2 separate regions of the Homo sapiens genome follow, and region 1 is linked to region 2. The links come from fine-mapping of genetic effects on gene expression. Tissue or cell type: cerebellar hemisphere. Region 2 holds a variant in brackets; the other region holds the start of a gene. All regions are shown on one strand. Distances are from middle to middle.

Region 1 (10,046 bases), 97 kb after region 2:
CTGACTGTGGACAAGGTACAATTAGCAAGCTAGATGGTTATCTTTTAAATGGGCTTTTGCTTTTCATTCCTGATTCCGTTATCTGTTACCGTGTCACTGGAACCAACAGATCAAAGGCTGAACATCCTTAGACTACAGCCTGAGAAAAGACATTCAAATATGAACATACCCTTAAGTTGTGGCCTCATTACAAGTTAGATACAGAGGCCTGTTTAAATATACTATCACTATTCAGATGTGTTTCCAAGCATACTCACAGAACCTCAGGATGTAAGAGTTGGAAAAGCCCTAACACAGTATCTATTCCCTACATTGCTAATGAGTTTCCATATGTCGTTAACTCTACTTGAGTAGCCCTGCTGAGAAACAGTCTGAGCCCAAGTCTGGTATTAGTAATGAAAAGGTTGATTAGCAATGTCTGCCCTGGCCATGGGAGGGGAAGCATCGTTACAATATGCATTTGCCTTTTCCCTTCTGAATCTAAGCCTCACTTAGCAGATGAGGAATCCAAGGCCCAGAGAGGTTAAACCTCTTTCCTGAGGACACACAGTGAGTTTAGGGCAGGAGAAAGGACTAAAAGCCAGGTCTCTGTTCCCAGGCCTTCCTCAGCTGGACTCCTTGGTAGACAGCAAGCCAAGAATGACAGAAAGAATGTAGGGAGCCGGATTTGTTCTGGCAAATCAACAACCCTTCCCTAGTGGCATCAGATTTCACCTGGGCATGCAGACAGAGGAGTGATTAGCAAGCTAAAGGATACTAGCCCTTCTGTGGAAAATTAAGGAAATCGTTCCAAGGCTACATTTCTATACTTAACTTTCTGATGGGCAAGGCTTCTGCCACCAGGAAGACTGAAAAAAGAGAAAAAAACATTGATTTCTGGATGTTCTAAGAATAAAGTTCAGCTCTAACACAATGAGAAAGAAATCCTGATACTTGAAAATTAAAGTCACCGGTATTCCATTATTCCACCAATTTCTATTCCACATATGCTATTTATCCAGTGAAGTCATTTTTCAACAAGAGATTATGGCTCAGAAATGAGGAGAGACTGCACTGAGTTTCTAACTTGAGCTTTTAATAACCTGTCCCAAACCTGGAATATGAAACAGACTGTTGAATTAAACCAAGATGTTAAACAGATTGGGGCTTGGAATGAGAGGGACCCACAAATTAAAAGGAAGATGTCTTCAAGGCTGGCATTTCTTGCTTGGTTTTGCAGCTTCCCAAGAAGCCAACTGTCTGACCAGATGACTGCTGAAATCCTAGAAGCATTATGTGTCCTTTATAAATCAGCTATCCCACCCAGCTCCAGAGGTACTCCCAGGATGAGCTGGCATGAGTTATGTAGACTTTCATTCTAGCAGATGATAAACACTATAAATTTGAAACTCCGTTCTTTAATCCAGTGGAGAAATCAAGGAGTTAGAGGACTACTCAAGTAGTGGATATGTTACTCTCAAAGAATCTTCTTTCAAACCCATATGGAACACATTTTTCATTTGGATAAAGTCCTGTCAGACTTCCCTCCAGAGCCTCTGCAGTTATTTCTACCAGAAGGATCAACGAGATGCTCAAAGATGATTCTCAACAATTACAAGAATGACAGGCTGAGCTCAGAACTGGTCAGCCCTGTTGAAAAAGCTCTGTATGCTCAAGATGCCAGATTTCCCAGATAGCAGCCTGGCATGTTACATGTATGTTCCAGTACACTGGGATGAGGGATGGAACACCATCACTCTGAGAAGTCAGCCTCTTTCCTCAAGGCCAGCTGACATTCAAACAACGGACTGGGGGCCAAGCCCAGTGCTCTGCATCTGTGGGAGAGTGAAACAAAAAGGGGCTGTGTGGAAATTTGGCAGGGCGTTCTTGAAAGGCAGCAGATGAATGCTGAATCCTGTAGCACCTAGAAGAGCTTATCATTGGGGAAACAGCTCCATTCTGCTGCTCCCATGAAGCAAAGAGATTTTCTTTAAAGCAAGAATAATCAGTTGGTATTCCCCCCAAACCCCCAAACCCCCTTCACCACTTCTTCCTCCTCCTCTTCATGCTATTCCAGAGAAAAAGAAATGAACAAAAACTAGATCTTCCCAGATGAGCCTGTCTATCCATTTCAGTTAGGGGCTCTGAGCAGCACCCAGCTGTTGCTCCCCTCTCTCTCCCTGCCCAAAAGTCTGCCTTACTCTATCAATACCCTCTTGCACAAGTGAGTAATTTACTTTGAAAGCTCAGGCCAAACTGGCAGTTAACCTTGACCTTCTCTACCCATCTGGGTCTACAGAAATGAAAATCAGGATGTCTTTGGCATCTATTGCAAATGAAATACGAGGTCTTTCTCCAAGCAGAGGCAGAATGTCAAGCACTATTTTAGAATGGGCTACAGCTATTCTAAAGGAGAGTTTGCACTAGGGTAGGACACTCCCCCTTGACCTGGAGCTGTGTCCAGTATGGAGCCTCCACAGCTAGGGATGCTACAAGGAACTCTGGACTCAAGACAGAAAAAAAGAAGGGACCGTTGTATTCCTCATTGATTAACTGATAGTATCACAGAATGTTAGAACTGGACCAATAATCATGGTTTACAGACCAAGAAAGTAAGGCTCAGAAAAGGAGATGAAAGGTGATCAAGGACACACACAGTAAGTTAGTGGTAGAGCTGAGGTCAGAACCCTGGAACTCCTGACTCTGATGCTGGTACTGAATAGGAACAGAGGAAAGAGATTTCATGAACGGAAAATCCATACAGATACAGAATTTCAGGGAGAGAGGTCTAAGCTAGCTGTCAGGGTTTGAACCAGGGGTTTAGGAAAGAGATGGAAACCTTAGTTTCTAAACAGTAAGCTCTACCAGAAAGATCAATGAGACCCTCTGGGATGCTTTGCAGCAATTAACAGAGTTACAGGCGGAGCTCAAATTGGTCAGCTCTGTAGCAAAGAGCCCTCTGTGCTCCAGATGCCAGACTGCCTAGACAGCAGCCTGATACTGGGAAGAATAAGGAAAACCATCAATCTCAGAAAAGCCAGCCTCTTTCGTCGAGGCCAGCCAACAGTCAGTCAAGTCTGACCCTGATACACAAATTATCCACTTCTCATGGGACCAGAGAAATCCCGTAAGAAAGCCTGAAATGTTCCACTATATGAAACAGTCTAAGCAATACACTCACTAGCACCTCCTGGGAGGGTGGGAGTGATGTGACAGAGCTTCTGCTATGAGGGAGCTGCTAGTCTAAATGCGTGCACGCACACATACACACAAACATACGTGGGTAAGTTCAAAGGAGGCAGAAACCATTCCGATCCCAGTTTTGGCTGCAATAAACACTACAACTAACCAGACTAGACAAGTTCAGAAGAGATAGGGAAGGCTTCTGGTGTTCCATCCTCAGGACACTGGGCACCAATAGCCTCTGGGACATTTTGGGGGTCCCCCCACCAGAGCCCCACCTCTGGACTCCCATAAGGTCAAAGGCAGCAGGTCCCTCAAGGACCAGGAGCTTACCCCCTTCTCCACCCCCAGGGGCTTGAAGCTTTAAAGGGAGCATGATCTTTACATTCTGCAAGGAATCCACAGGATCTGAGAAAGGAAAAGGCTAGAGTTGGGGCGGGGGTGTTGAATAAATGGGGAGAGGAGGAAGGCCCGGGTGTCTCGTTGGGCAGATGAGAAATCAGGAAAAGGGCTGACCTGAGCAAAGAACACTGGGATCAGCAGGTAGGGGTTGTGGGGGGGGGGGGGTGGGAGGAGGGAAGCAGAGAGGACCTGGACACCAAATAGAAGAACCAGAATCTTCATTCCTATTGGCACAAGGCAGGAGTCATCCTGGGATACAGGGATGCAGATAGGATCCTTCAAAAGAGATCCGCTGGAAGACGTCAAGGAATACCAGACGGGGACAGAAAGGAAGGTGGTAACATGTGGTGAGAAATAGCGTCCTGAGTGCTAGTTCGGACTCAGTCTCTGACTGGCGTGGGACCCTGGACAAGTCCCGACAGGACTTAATTTTCCCATCCGGAAAATGGGAAGAGCTGAAGAGTCTCGGAGCTGACTCTGAGGAGGCAGACAGCAGAAGGTGGAGGAAGGAACCACAGGCTAAAAGTGAATTCGGGAAGGGGGTGTTCCCGGCCTGTAGCAACGGGGGGACTCACCTGTCCCGCCGCCGGCGCCACCGCCGCCCCCGATCCCCCAGGGGTGCCGTCGGGCTGCCGCTCGCGGTACAGCGCCCAAAGCCCCACGTTGGGCAGGAGGACCAGGGCCGCCAGCACCAGCGCCACCGCCTGCAGGAGCCGCTTCTCCTTCCGCCTCATCGGGGCCGGTCAGCCCCGCCGCGCCCCGCCGGCCCCGCCGCGCCGCCCCCAGCTCCGCGCGTCCGCCCGTCCGCCCGGCGGCGGCAGCAGCTCAGCCAGCAGAAGCGGCTGCGGCGCCGGCCCCGCTCCAACTCCGCGGCACTTCCGCCGCTCGCCGGCCGGGGAGCTGGGCGCCGCCACCACGCCGCCGCCACGAGGGGGTCGTCGCCGCCGCCACCGCCCCCGGGCCCCGCCGAGCCGCCCGCCCCGCGCCGCCTGCCCCCGCGTCGACCGCCGAGTCTCTGCGCTGCAGGCTCGGCCCTCTCACGGAGCGTCTCGGCCCGCCCGGGCGCTGCAGGATGCCGGGCCGGAGCGCTTCCCCCCTCTCGAGCCGCGATGGTCCGTCCCACTCCTCGGCGGCTCCCCCGCCCTCTGGAGCTTTGCGAAAGTCCCGGAGTTGGCGAGTTGGGCGCTAACTGGTGCGGGCTGGGCACCGCTGGGTGGGGTGCATGTCCGCTCGCCCGGGTACCCTGCCGCCCCGCCCGGCAACCTCCGCCCGGGACTGCAGCCGAACCTTTGCTGCCTCCCTGGGGATATGCAAATAGTGCTGGGGCCCCGCCGGGCGTTCTGAGCCTGGAGCCCCCGGGGCTGTCACTTCCAGCCCACCTAGGCTCGGCCCCCAGGACCTGCGGACCTACTTTGACCCCGGCGACTCGGTGTTCCCGGCCATGAAACGGGGCCACAGCCGTGCTGCACGCTCACTGTTCCGCGGGCGGGCCCTGGTTTTCTTCCTCTAGGGGGGCCCTGGCGTTAGGTGTGAACGCCCTCTGCAAACTGTAGGGAGCTGTGCCCGGCCGCCGCCCGTCTGTAGATCCTGCAAACCGGCGGGTGGGTAAGTGACGGTAGCCTCTCTGCAGCACCTTTCCTCACGCAAGTCCAACCCCCTTGGAGTTAGAATGCCCTGCATTCTCACGCGTGCTTTTGGATCCTAAGCGCACTGAGCCCTTCCCGGAAAGCTCTCAGCAAACCGTTGGCGAGCGCCACTATGTGCCAAACACTGTGCCAGGCTCTGGGATGAAATGAAAACAGACCTGAGCCCTGACGTCTGGGAGCTGAAACATGAAACACGTAATTTCACTAGACCAGGCAATGTGTCTGTAACTGTGGCGAGGGCTTTGACAGAGGAGTCGGGCTTCTGGGCGATGCGGAGGGCCGTGGAGCCGGACTCCGACGGTGATGCCAGCCAGCGGCTCCTCCTCGGGGCGCTCGACGCTGGTCACTTAGCTGCCTCCTCCCTGATGCGGTGGAACGGAGCACCCCCTTGGCTACCTTACTCTCTGCCACCCCCACATTCGTCCTCTTGATTCTCTGCTTCTCTAGCTCAGCCGCTGACCTTCGTGCCTAGCTGCCACTAGTCCTTGACCAGCGTTCTGGCAACTCTTGCCTCCAAGTTCTTCCAGCTCCAGGCTGAGCGATGGGGATTCAGTTTTCTGACATCACAGCTCAGTTCTTGATTTCTGCAGCAAAACCTTCAAGGCTTCCATCACCTCGGCTCTAGAGTCCATCATGCTCCTCTCCTATGACCTGCTAGGGCTGATCAAACGTTCTGTCTCCTGCCGTGCCCTGCCCTGCCCTGCCCTGAGCTTCGCTTAGCCTGTTGCAGGCTTTGTGTTTTCCTTCTTGTGCTGTTGACCACGCAGCTCCTTCTACCCATAAAACCCCCTTCTCTAGGTCGGTGGAAATCTTGTTCATCCTTCCGTGTCTAGTTAAACTGCCACCTCCTCCACGAAGCCTTCTAAAACTCCTCCTCAGGGAACTGTTTTCTTTCTTTAGATTTCCATCACAATAATGCTTACCTTTTATTGAGTGCTTACTCTATGTCAGGCAGCCCTTGAGATGCATTACCTCTTTAAATGCTCACAGTTACCCTGTGAGGTACATGCTTTTCTTATACCCATTGGCGAATGAGAGTCAGATTTAAAAATGCATGTAATCCCAGCACTTTGGGAGGCCAAGGCGGGCAGATCACGAGGTCAAGAGATCGAGACCATCCTGGCCAACATGGCGAAACCCTGTCTCTACTAAAAATACAAAAATTAGCTGGGCGTGGTGGCGGGCACCTGTAATCCCAGCTACTTGGGAGGCTGAGTCAGGAGAATCGCTTGAACCCAGGAAGCAGAGGTTGCAGTGAGCCGAGATCGTGCCACTGCACTCCAGCCTGGCAACAGAGCGAGACTCTATCTCAAAAAAATAAATAAATAAATAAATTAATTAATTAATTAAATAAATAAAAGAATGTGGCAGCCAGAATGATCTTGTTTTATCCAAGGTTAGATTGTATCGCCCCTCTGCTCAAATCCCTGTAGTGGCTTCCCACCTCTCATTAGGTTCCTAAGAAAGTACAGGACCCTACAAGCCCATATGTGATCAGCTCTCACTCCTTACTGTCCTTATTGTGCCCCAGTGACATTGGCTTCCTTGTTGTTCCTCAGAGCATCCCTCAGGCAGGCACAGTCCTGCCTCAGTACCTTTGCACCTGTTGTTACCTCTGCCTAGAATGGCCATTTTTCTATTTCTAGCTCCTAACTCTATGTCTTTTTTAAACACATTTTTTTGTGATAAACGTTTGTAAAACTGATCATTTGAACTATTTTAAAGTGTACAATTCAGCGGCATTATGTAAATGCACATTGTTCTGCAGCCATCACGGCTATCTATCTCCAGAACTGGTCATCAACCCAACTGAAACTCTGTACCCATTAAACACTAACTCCCTATTACCCTCTCCCCACAACTGCTGGCAACTACCCACCATTCTACTTTATCCTTTTTGAATTTGACTATTCTAGGTACCTCATGTAAGTGGAATCATATCATATTAGTTCTTTTGTTTCCAGTTTATTTCACTCATAATATTTTTTAGATTCACCCATGTTGTAACATGTATCTGAGTTTCATTCCTTTTTTTTTTTTTTTTTTGACAGTGTCTTATTATGTTGCCCAGGCAGGTGTGCAGTGGTGCAGTCACTGGTGCAGTCATAGGATTATAGCTGGTTGTAGCCTCAAACTCCTGGGCTCAAGCCACCCTCCCACCTCAGCCTCCTAAGTAGCTAGAACTACAGGCCCATGCCACCACACCCAGCTGATTTTTTAAAAATCTTTTGTGGAGACCGGGTCTAGCTATGTTTCCCAGGCTGGTCTCAAACTCCTGGCCTCAAATGATCCTCCCACCTTGGCCTCCCAAAGTGCTGGTATTACAGGTGTGAGCCACTACGCTCAGCCAAATTCCATTCCTGTTTTCAAGATTGAATACTATTCCATTGTATGTATGCCACATTTTGTTTATTCATTCATCAGTAGATGGACATTTGGGTTCTTTCTACCTTTTGGCTACTGTGAATAATGTTGCTATGAATAGCCCTATGTCTTCTATACTGCAGTGGATACACAGTATTTATGTAATTAAATAATGTTGCAAAAAACTTTTAGGTGCCACTATAGCACTGAGCACAGTGCTGGTAACAGAGCAGCTAGAATGTTCTTTTTACACACACAAGGCTAACTCTGCTGCTGGGACTTGCCTATGGCTTCTCTTCATGTTAGAATATGTCTATGAAGCCAGGCATGGTGGCATGTGTCTGTAGTCCTGTCTACTCTGGAGGCTGAGGTGAGAGGATTGAGCCCAGGAGTTCAGGCTGCAGTGAGCTATGATCACAGAATTGCACTCCAGCCTGGGTAACAAAGCAAGACCAAGTCTCTCAAAACAAATAAACAGAAAACAACCTACAATCTATGAGAATCCTTACCACAGCCCATAAGGCCTTACATTATTTGACCCAACTTCTAATTTTTGCCTTCTTTCCTTCTCTTCTAGTTACACTGGTCTTGCTATGTTCCTCAAATGTATACCAAATTGATGATTCCCTCAGGGCCTTTGCAAATTTACTGTGCCCTTGTCTAGAAATCTCTTCCTCTACCCCTCTGCATGGTTCTCTCTCCGCCTTCTCTCAGGAACCAGATCAGGGGTCCTGCCTCAGAGAGAGCTTCCCTGACCAGCTGATCTAAGATATCAACTAGCACCACCACCATCTCCATTTGCTTGATTTTTCTCCAAAGCAGGTATCATTTTTGGTCTCCCTGTCTAGAATGTGAGTTCCAAACAGACAGGAACTTTGTATTTGCCTTCTATGGTGTTCCGTGCCTCTGTCAGCACATAAAGTCACGTACTGTTCAACAACATTTCAGTCAACAATGAACTGTATATACCAATGGTGTTCCCATAAGACTATAATACTCTATTTTTACTATACCTTTTCTATGTTTAGATATGCTGAAATACACAAATACCATTGTGTTACAATTGCCTACAGTATTCAGTACAGAAACATGCTGTACAGGTTTGTAACCTAGGAGCAATAGGCTATACCGTGTCGCCTAGATGTGTATTAGGCTATCCTATCAAAGTTTGTGCAAGTATGCTTTATGATGTTCTCTATGAGAAATCACCTATTGACACATTTCACAGAACGTATCCCCATCACTAAGCCATGCACAATTGTATTTCCCTTCATTGTGAATCAGAAAACTGGTGCTCCTTCCAGGCAGAAGAACTTACAGAAAGGATCCCCCCTCTCCTTGTGCTAAAGCAGCCAGAACAGAGCCAAGGTGTGTGGATTTCAACTCATATTCCCACCCAGCCACACAAACTAAGCTGTGGCCTTTCCTGGGTCTGGCACACAGTAGGTGTTCAATAAGCCCCTGTTGAGTGAAGTACTGTATAGCAGTGAAGATCAAGTACAGGAGGGAAGATACTCAGCATCTCTCTCCTTCCCATCCCCTCTTCTAGCTCCTTAGAAGATTCTGCACAAAATTGGATTTGAGCTTTTTCTCATGTCACTTGTTGATCAAAGCTGCATGCCAGCCCAGTCTGGCCCCAATGAGGACTCTAGCCCAAGAACCCAGCTTTAATCCAGGGACTCTTTGATCACTTTGTACAATATGGGATGCACCAGGCAGGGGGTGGGCTTCTGGGGCTTTATTCCGCTCGCTGAGACAATACCATTTGAGACATGGGCAGTCTGTTAGCTCTGGCTGGTTTCCTGGGAGAACTGATCTGGTCATTGACTGAAATTGAACAAAAAATGTTACTTTCAGACTGAGCCCTCTAGGCCTATTGTGGGCGTTAAATAAGATAATGTGCATAAAGGGCTTACCGTGCAGACCCTGGTCGAATGTAAGCACTAGTAGCTGGGTGAAATAAAAGCTCAACAACACAGGAGCGTTGAGAGGGATGAACAGAATTTCAGCTGTCAGGCAAAACCTTCTGCTCTGGCCTGTGCCTCTCTGCTCTCATCTCCTGTTACTCTCCTCATTCGCTCCAAAGCAGCCACACTCTCCTTCTTCCTGGTCCTTGAAGGCCCTCTGCCCATGCCAGCCCCAAGGCCTTTGCATTAGCTCTTGTCTCTGCCAGCTGTTTCCCCAGATCTTCCTCCACTGTTAGCTCCCTTTCATCCTTCAGGTCCCAGACTACATATCACCTCTTTACAGAGACCTTCCTTAACTACCCAGGCACTCTCTCCCATACTTTACATCCTGCCATGTTTCCTTCACAGTGCATACATATCCCTCTTTGCCATAGTCTCATTTATGTGTTTATTTACTTGTTTATTATTGGGCTTTCCCAAATAGAATATCAGCTGCATGGGGCAAGGGCCCTGTCTGCTCATTGCCTGCTATATTCCTCCATCCTGGAACATTTGTGCCTGACAC
Region 2 (10,046 bases):
CAGCCCTCCCTCCCAATCTCTTTTTCCTCTTCTGCTGCCCACAGATTGGAAACTTTGGTTGATTACTTCAGCCCTGGTGGGACTAGAGGCTCTGCAAACTGAGGATCTTTTAATGGAAGGCACAAAACTAAAGCCATGGTGTTCAAAGTGTTGTATCTGAAGAGGACAGGATGGGTGCCACCTGGGAACTTGCCAGAAATGCAAATTCCCAGGGTCTTACCCTAGACCTCTAGAAGCAGAAGCTCTGGGGATGGGGCCCAGCAATCCGTGTTTTAGCAAGCTCTCGAAGAGATTCTGATACACGCTGAGGTTTGAGAACTGCTGGTCTACAATGAAGCAGATGATAATCCTACCTGATCTGTGTTGTCACATCAAGTTGAGCAGATAATTATCATAGAAGGCTGCAAAACCCTGAGGCCCGTGGGCCAAATGTGGTCACTGGCAAACAACCTGGTGGCTTTCAAGGTGCTTTTCGTTTTGGTTTGGTTTTCTTAATTCTAGTGTGAAAATGGGGAGATTTCATATTGTTTTATCAAGATTTTTGGCTTCTCTTGAAAACCTAAAAGACATGCCAGTACTGGGCTGACTTCCCTCAGCTCATCAGCTGGGCTGTGTGGATGGGGCACGTCTCCCCAGTTTGCCACAGTCCCTACCATTCCTTATTGCATTTCACCTGCCTCCCATATCTCATTTTTGTTACCTGCCTGGCCCTGGTGAGCTTGAAACATGCTGGGATATTCAGGAATGTATCCTGGTTGGGAAAGATTAGAAACTATGAGGACTAGGAGATAAGAAGCCCTGGAGGACATGGGAGAAGTTATTTTGTTCCATGAAGTCCTAAGGCTACACTAAGGGCCAATGGTAGATGTTACTGAATGATTGAGGGGCCTCAGACAGAGAAGAAATTCCAAAAGTTGGGTCGCTGCTAGGATGAAATAAAACCATTTGGAAGAAGATATTAGAAGTGGCCAGGAATAGAAAGATTGAGTGTTCATCAGGATGTGAAGGAGAAGAATCAAGTGCAGGGTTGGGACTAGTGCTTCTCAAATTTTAATGTGCAGGAGAATCATGCATGGATCTTGTTAATGCTGATTCTGGCACAGTAGGTCTAGGGCGGGGCCTGAGATTCTGCATTTCTAACAAGAACCCAGGTGATGCTGACGCTGCTGGGCCAAAAAAGACACTTTGAGTAGCAAGGGTTAGGCAACCTTTAAAGGGCCCTTCAAGAGTCTAAGATTCCATGAAGGATACTATTTCCTCTACAAGCTTGTGAAAGTCTTCCAGTGCTACTGGGAATGGGGTACAGGGATAAATCTCACTGTTTTGACCTCACAGAAGTAAACCCCTAGAATCATGTTCTCAAAATGAAACACTGGATTGCTGAACTGATGGCATTGAGAATTAAGGCTCCAAAATCCTGGGAGTTTCATACCTAACTCCACTGCCTTTGCCTTATGATGCACACTGCTCCCTCTATCCCTCCCTCCCAGGGTCTGCAGAGATGAACTATGCTGTTTTAGGTCTCATTGGTCCTTATACCTTCCCTAAACCAGGAGGACTTTGGAGCCTGCTGACACAGGGAGTTCTACATGTCTAAGCACGCAGCTGCTAGAGTCCTCAGCCATCTGAGCTAAATAGCTGCTCAGAGACAATTAGTACACCTCCGCTCATCTTACAGATAAAGGAACTGAAGTCCAAACAAGCCAAGCTACCCAACCAAGGCCTCACAGCAGGCAAGAGGATAAAAACCATGTCCTTTGACTCCCAGGTTAGTTTTTAGTGGGAAAGAACCCTTGAGTGTGACCTTGCATGAGCTACAGGAGTCACAGGTACCTCAATTTTCCCACCTGGAAAATGGAGACAGCACTACCTGCCCAAAGGTACTTTCAGATGAACGGAGACAATCACAAACAGTATAGCCTGAGCGCTCTCCTAATTTACACATGGATTGAGGACACTGACTCCTTTAGGATTTTAAGAATCTACTGTAAATTGACATCTCACCAAATCATGTAGATATAAAACTCAAATTTTATTGTATAGGTTAAAAAGTATCCCAGTTATAGGTCTGGGCCTTCAGTAGGGTGGAAAACTAGTTTCAGTCTTAAAATTATAGAGTTGGTCAGGTGTGGTGGCTTACGCCTGTAATCCCAATACTTTGGAAGGCTGAGGTGGGCGGATCACTTGAGGTCAGTTTGAGACCAGCCTGGCCAACATGGTGAAACCGTGTCTCTACTAAAAATACAAAAAAAAAAAAAAAAAAAAAAAAATTAGCTGAGTGTCATGGCACACACCTATAATCCCAGCTATTTGGGAGGCTGAGGCAGTAGAATCACTTGAACTCAGGAAGCAGAGGTTGTGGTGAGCCGCGATTGTGCAACTGCACTCCAGCCTGGGCAACAGAGTGAGACTCCGTCTCAAAAAAAAAAAAAAAAAATTACAGAGTACATGGAGCCTGAAGGGCCCTAAGAATCCTATCCAAAAACCTTAATGGAAATTGTGGTCAATTTCAGGTGGTTTAGGAGCCTCTGAGGACAATCCATGGAATTTCTAGAGATAGTGCAGATTAAGAAACCCCAGATCATCTAAACTATCACCAAATGTTTACTGACACCTACTCTGTACAAAGCAGTGTGTCAGGCACCAGGGATTCAGGTTTGACAGCACAGATACTGTGTAGGCCTAATGAGGTTTACAGAAAGATCAGTCTCTTTCAAAAGGTGGTTCTTGGAGAACCTGGGCCCTTATTATAGATGCAAATTCCTGGACTCACACCCTGAACCTACTAAGTAAAAATGTCTACAGATAGGAGCCCAGGAAGATACCTTTTTTAGAAAACACATTCTCCATGTGATTCTAATTCACAATAAAGTTGGAAGACCTTTGGTCTAAATCTAGCTGCCTCATTTTACAGATACGAAATCTGAGGCTAACAGAGTAGAATGGACTTGCCCTAAATCCTACAGCTTGTCAGCCCCAAGGACCAAACCAGAGCTTGCAGTTCTCTCCCTGGAATAGACTGTAAGCTTCTTGAAGGCAGGGGCATTACACCACTGCACTTTCCTAGGCCAATACCTGACTAATCTTAGGCCCTTGAAAAATACCAGCTGAATGAATGAATGAATGCTCATCAATGGGAAAGGTAGTCTAGTTTAATGACTTGGAACATTCTGGTTCCAGAGTTAGGAAAACCTAGGTTTTACTTCCTGGGCAGGTGGAGCCCAATTTCCCTGACTGATAAATAGAGAAAACTAACAGAATAAGAGTATCTGTTGGGAGGATTAACTGAGCTAATCCGGGACAAAGTGTCCCAGTGTCTGGGACAAAGTTAGGTCCTCTCCTAGTAAAGGTGAGCAACTATGAATACATTATTTTTAGGGAAAGTTTATGAAAACACGGTATGTTCCAGTGTTTGTGATAACCATGTTTGGAGGAATAGGAGAGCGAACAGGAAACTAATAAGGAAAACTGTGGGTCCTGCAGAGGCAACCTATCTACCACCTGATTCAATTCAACTGGCTCTTGCTGATAACAGGATTTAGAATTTCCTCATTAACAGGATGTCATATGCCCACATCGAAACACAGTGTTCTTCAAGGAAAGAAAAAAGTCTTAGTTAATAGTGGCATTCTACAATAGAAACAAATGCCACAAGACCATTAACAACAGAAAAGGCAGGAACATTGCTTCTCAAAAGACAGCAATTATGCAATAGCAATCACTTAATATTATGTAAAAGATCACGTCTGGATTTTTCAATCCAGAGGTAATTTTAAGTTTCTTTAATTCTGTAAGCTCAAAGATTTGTCTACAAAAGCTGTAATTATTTTCCTTCAACAACCATCTTTTGCTACTTTGCTTTCTCTTGGTTTCCAGATGTCCTTCTGCTACAGGAAGCAAAGGGGTTAGGAAGGAACATGGCAAGAAGTGAGGGAGAGTGTGTGGAGGAGACTGGCAGAATCAATGTGGAAATCACATTAAATAATAAATTGGCAATGGATTTTGACTGGCTGCTCTAAATAACTGCTTCTGGTATCTGCATGCTTTTACTTAACATTCCACTAAAAGAATCGATTAGTGTTCAAACACACACACACACACACACACACACACACACACAAATGGAATTTTAATCTTTGTTTAATCACTATTTAGCAGGCCTGGCAGCCTTTGGAGGTAGGAAAGAATGGTGGTGAAGCAAGCCAACTACATTCTGCTCAAGAAGGAAGATTTGTTAAAGTGCATACTCTAATCCCAAGACTGCAGACTTGGCAAAGAGCATCTCTGGCTGAGCTGGCTAG[T/C]GTCTTCAAAACAAGGAAAGGGCTGTATGCGCTCAAACAGCAATGTTGGAAGGAAAGCTGAGCAGGTCATCTGCTTCATCCACAGTCTGAGGCTGTGTTAGAGACCAGGCTCTGCTGCAAATTTTAGGATGGCTCCCCTCCACCTTCCTCTCAAAGAACCCTACAAAGGCAATGAAATGATTTTGCTTTGAGGTTTAAATAACTATATCATTTCAAACATCTGTTTATCTACCAAGTAGATTAATAAACTTCTCTCTCTCTCTCTCTCACACACACACACATGCACACACATGCACACTCTCTCTCTCTCTCTCACACACACACACACACACACACAGCAAAGCAATTTCTTCAAGATTACCTTCAAAGAGGACCAGGTAGGGCTTAATTTAGCTCAAAGCATATAAAGTTTAAACAAGGGAGTTTGGACAATTAGATAAATGTACTTTCTTCATGAGTTTTGAGGACATAAGCTGGATTGTTTTTATTAATTCATTCATCCAAACAATGATTATTGAGGGCCTACTATGGCCAAAGACCTCTGGGAGAGACAAAGATGAACAAGGTAGTCCATGGCCTCCACAAACAGCTATGAGACAAGTATTTAAGGAAGGAAAACACACATACACACATACAAGCCTATAACATAGTGCCTTGAAAGCTGTACAGATAAATTCGATAGATATTTACAAAAGCCAAAAATTAAATTCTACCTGGGACGATCGGGGAAGAATTCCTGCAGAAGCAGAGTCTTTGACAGGAACCTGAGAGAAGGGGTAGGATTTTAACTGGTAGCAGTTGAGGGGTGGGGGTTGGGGGTGGAATCCAGCTAGAGGGAAAGTATGTGGAAAGAATGCGAGTTAGAAAGTGAAGGGCATATTTACTTAAGGGCAAGGAGCCTGATTTGGCTGGAGTGAGCAGGATGCAAAAGTGAGTCACGAGCAATAAGACCAGGAAGGAAGTCTGGACCAGAATTGGAGGGCCTTACATTTGAGCTGCTTGGCAGGTGGGCAGCCACAGTAAGCCTTTGAGCAAGGAACAGGCTGAAGTAGAACTCCAAGAATAAAATACGTTACTACCTTTCCACTTTCAATTAATCTCAGAATCCTCCTCCTCCCATGAGAAATGCAAGGAGAAAGATGATTTTGTTTTCATTCAGAGAAAATGTCCCCTTTTCATAGGCTGAGGATCATTCATTCTGGTACCCCACAGTCAGACTTAAGTGAGGCTGACCTAACCCTAGCACCTATTCAGTAGGCTGCTGTTTTGAGAAAACTTAACTTTCACTATAACCAGGACCAAGCTGTATGAGAAAACAATCAAACCTGAATGGCACTATTTATGAATGGAAGGAGGCATTACAACCCAGCAACCACGAGTCTATGTCTGCTGGGCCCACGTCAGGCAAGTCCTGCTGTTCCAATCAGCAATGGGGCTGTGTCTGTTGTCCCCACTCCAGTAACTCCATTGTCTCAACACCAGGATGCTGAAATCTGAAATCTGGCCCTTCTCTAAGAGGGGAAGGTCACTCACAGATAGGAGCCATTGTTTCAAAGGGCTGATCCTGTGTTTCCAAGGGCAGAACCATATCAACCCTCCAATTCCTTTGTTTGGTGTAGGTGGCTCTAGAAAAGGTCATTTGCTACGTAAGGCATGAAAGCTCATTAAAAGATTTTTTAAACAGCAGGGAGAAAAAAAAGCCAAGATACTTTGGAATGTCTGTTATCTAAAGGGCAAATAGAACCTTCAGTAGCTTTTCCCTTCCATTCTAAAAGAACAATTTCAACACTTTCTTCAGGATAAGTGCCCAAATGTTTTATCACTGGGAAAAAAAAAAAAAAACAAATCGACTCTGATCAATAATTTGATAATGTTCATCTGAGTCTCTTACCTATCAATCCATCTGTCCATCTGTCTGTCTGTCCATCTGTCCATCAACTTAAGTGTATGATGAACACAAGCACAAATCAAGCCTTGTGCTAGGTGCTGAGGATATACTGGTGAGGAAGACGGACGGGGTCCTACTCTCATAGAGCTTATAGAAGTATGTGTGGTGGTGGGGAAATGTAGACTTTCATCCGAAACTACAGGTAAATTAAAAAAGCTACAGTGGCAGGCCATAAAAGAGGGGTACATGGTACAAAGATAGTCCCTTTCTTTCAGATCAGACTGGGGGGATCTGATCCAGCCTGCAAGGTTTTCTTGAGAAAATTGGATTACAGGTTAACTCAGTAGAAAGAGGAGTACACAGCATTCCAGACAGAGGGAAAAGTAAAGATATGCAAAGATTCTGTGGCTGAGCAAACATGAATCATAGGAGGGCCTGGAAGAGCAGTGTGTGTGGTGCACAGAGAAGCAGGGAAAGTCTGGTAGGAATGAGAGGTGGACAGGGGTGAGGATTCTGTCTTTCCTCCAGGAGCATTTAGAAATACAAGTGTTTTCTATAAGGAGGTGATAAGATCAGGTTGCATTTGGAAAGCTCTCTTGTAGCCAAGTGGAAAAGGGATTAGGAGGCCAAGAGGAGGGGTGGAGGCTGGGAAGGAGGCTATCACAGTGGTGCAGGCAGAGATGATGTTAGCTTATGCTGGGAAGGCAGAAGTAGGGGTGGGCACACACAGATTTTTTTTAAAAATAGGGTTACTAGGGTCCTGTGGGTTTGAGTCAAGAAATAGAGCCTGAGAACTTGGACAGTCAGGTGAGAAGTTCATCTGTAAGAGCTGGATATCAATAGTCCCACAGATGCAGGTGAAACCCACCTGGGACCTGAGCCCAGCTCTCCCCTCACCTAGCCTGGTGTCTGTGTCATCACATGTTACTTTTAAGTTTCAATACTGTCCATAGAAAGCAAGTCAGGAGATCAGACCTAATGAGATAGGATTTTATGTCTATTTCACCTTCAAGAATTCAGTGACACATAGTCAAGAAAGAAGAGAGAAATCCTACAAGGGTGGTGGTGAGCCTCCCGTGCTCATGCAGAGTGTGCCTTTGCCCTCACAGTGTCCCTGGAGGCCCCAGTTCTCTCTGGCCCCTGGAAGTGTGAGCGCTCTGTGCTGGGGGAGCCTACTCTAGGAAGATAAGTATTTTCATTACCTCAGAAGGCACTGTGATTACTTCAACCAAAGAAACAGTTATCACTGGTGTTCAAGCTGGATTTAAAACTGCCCACACTGGACTTTTGAGAGGTGGTGTGTCTTCATATTCCATGAGCGATTGTCAAGGGTGATTCTGATTTTGTGTTATTTTCACCTTAAGTGGTGGGTTTATTATAGCCTAACTCTTTCATGAGATTAGACTTGACTATATTATTATCGTCATTATATCCACTTTGTAGATGACAAAACTGAGGCTTGGAGAGAAAATCGATATGAAAGCGTTTTGCAAACTGCCAACCACCACATGAGTGTAATCATCACAGCTAATAGCACCTACCACATGTACCTGCCCATTCCTTCCCAAACTCAGTATCTAGAAAGGCTGCAGGAACATAGCCCTCAAATATGGAAAACGTGCTGAGATGAATCATACTTCTGTACCAAGAGGGCAATTCACAAGAGGTTTTGAAAATCTCAGTCTAGCTGATGTGTGATCAATCACAGGAAAGCCCCTAGAAAGTGCTCTTCTTAGAGGCTTGACGGGCTGGGCAGGAGCAAGGGCTGCAATATTGCTCTGCACAGCAGCTGTGGATGGGTAAAAAGAAAAAAAGGAACTGGAAAGCTCATCAGAAGGCAAGTTCCTACTTTTCAGAGAGAGACTAAAAAATGACTGCAAACACATCCTATTAATCTCCTAGCTGGGTAAGTAGGGTTGAGCCACGCAGTAATAAAGTACTTGCTCTAATAATAGTAATAATTATAATCATAATCCCCTACATTCTGAAGACAGCAGACCAAAGTGAAGAAGACCATCTGCTTTGGCATCAGAAATGCCTAGGCTTGTGCCACAGTTCTGTTTATTAGCTCTGTGATCTTGGGCAAGTTACGCTATTTTCACAAGCCTTGGTTTCCCAACTGTAAAATGGGGGAAATTAATAGTACCTAGCATAAAGGTTATTATGAGGATTAAATGAGATGCAGCAAGTATAGCTCTTAGCAGTGTTTGGTATCTAGAAAGCACTAGCAATGCTAGCTACCATTATTAGTTACTATTTGGTAGTATTTTATAATTTACAAAGCATTTTTATATTTATGTCCCATTCCTTCCTCTCAGTTGCACCAGGGTAAAAGCAGACATCACCAACCTATTGTAATATCCTTCCTTGTGGATCCCAGACTTTGAGAATCTTTCTCAACACTGTGCTCCAAGCAGCGCTTACCCATCAGCTGGCATTGGTCAGGGGACAGGACCCATCTGCCACAGCTGCCTTAAGCTGGAAGAGTGAATTTCCAAGTACACCTGGTAGACAATGACCCACTGGTTGATTTCCACAATCTTGGCTCTTTGGGCTGGCTGGCTGCTCACTGCTTGCAAAGGTCCCCCAAGAGGGGGAGAGGGGTAGGGGCATGGGGAAGCAACATGTGACTGATGGTAGTCCCCTCCTCTTTGGACTCCTTCCTGGCCCAGGAGGAAAGTCTCTGCCTGGACAATGATGTTGGCCTCCTCCATCTCCCATCTTGGAAACTGAGAACTCTCTGAACTCTTCTTCTTTGTTTCTCTTAGGGTGGAGGCCACAAAAGGCTCTGAATCTCCTGGGCAGCACCCAGCCCCTTACCTATCCCACCTCACTCTCACTCTGTCACTCTGGTATTCTTGTTTTTATTTATTTATTTTTTTTAAGAGATAGGATCTTGCTCTGCTGCCCAGGCTGGCTTGCAGTAGCATGATGATAGCTCACTGCAGCTCCAGCCTTGACCTCCTGGGCTCAAGCAATCCTCCTGCCTCAGCCTCCCAAGAAACTAAGACTACAGGTACATGCACCACCACACCTGGCTTTTTTTTTTTTTTTTTTTTTTACAGACGAGGTCTTATTATGTTGCCCAGGTTGGTCTCAACCTCCTGGCCTTAGGTGATCGTCCCACCTGGGACTCCCAAAGTGCTGAGATTACAGGCGTGAGCCATCATGCCCAGCCTCTCTTGTTCTTATATAACGATTTCTTAGATATATGGTGTCCCAGGCAGGATGTGTGAGGTGCAACCACAAGAGAGCACAAAGGACAGTCTTCCCAGACCACAGCAAACTGCTATGAATGCAGATGCTCCCACAGGAATCATCTAAACCCTCAGGCAAGCTTCCCTAACCCCTCTGGCTAGATCACTGCCCCTGATATGGGACCTTACAGCATCCTCACTGCTCCTTTGTGACTTCACATTCATTTGGATGATCATTTGAATATTGTCTATCTCTCCCCAAATTGTGAGCTCTATGAGAAGACATCAATTTCTGTTGAATGAATGAATAATGAATGAATGAGTGGAGACATCTTTTATCTTTTCCAGATGAAGGAAAGGTCACTCAAGGATTAGACATGTCTAATATAGTCCAAAGATTTAATACCATAAAAGGGTTCTGAGGATTGACTTTATCCTATGACTAAATGGCTTCAGGTCAACTTAATGGGCTACAAAGCTCAAAAGAGAGCTGGCTCACCTGATCCTAAAATAATTTTTAAAAAGATGCAACAGGCTTTGAACTCTTCCACCTTCTTCCTTCTTTCATTTTCAAATGGTTTCCTTTCTGGATTCCTAACTAAGGCTTGTGGCAGAAATTGCTGTATATCCCCTAGGAGCTGTTCTTTTCTTCCACAGTAA

Direction of the effects. Positions count from the first base shown, and alleles are read on the strand shown. Sizes are in standard deviations (SD) of each study's normalised expression.
In carriers of allele C in region 2, the expression in cerebellar hemisphere of the gene that starts at base 4,432 in region 1 tends to be lower than with T alone (small effect, 0.31 SD a copy in GTEx).

What was found. PIP is the estimated chance that this variant, and not a neighbour inherited with it, causes the effect.
Region 1: GALNT10 starts here. The variant in region 2 is fine-mapped to the expression of GALNT10 in cerebellar hemisphere (GTEx, PIP above 0.99). The same link has a PIP of 0.9 or more in cerebellum.

What each region holds. Positions count from the first base shown.
Region 1 is chr5:154,185,119-154,195,164 of GRCh38, reverse strand. It overlaps GALNT10 (polypeptide N-acetylgalactosaminyltransferase 10), which reads right to left and starts at 4,432. Exons shown (of 12, transcript NM_198321.4): 1 at 4,140-4,432. The coding sequence starts at 4,298. It overlaps LOC124901118 (a long non-coding RNA gene), which reads left to right and starts at 5,086. Exons shown (of 2, transcript XR_007059010.1): 1 at 5,086-5,169. RefSeq lists silencers at 4,137-4,196, 4,267-4,346, 4,437-4,546, 4,557-4,656, 4,747-4,836 and an enhancer at 5,057-6,022.
Region 2 is chr5:154,282,483-154,292,528 of GRCh38, reverse strand. The region is part of intron 1 of GALNT10 (polypeptide N-acetylgalactosaminyltransferase 10); the gene reads right to left. Among named protein-coding and RNA genes, the nearest start is that of MIR1294, 60 kb to the left of the region's middle. RefSeq lists a silencer at 6,546-6,840. The variant T/C (reference allele first, on the strand shown) is at 4,302.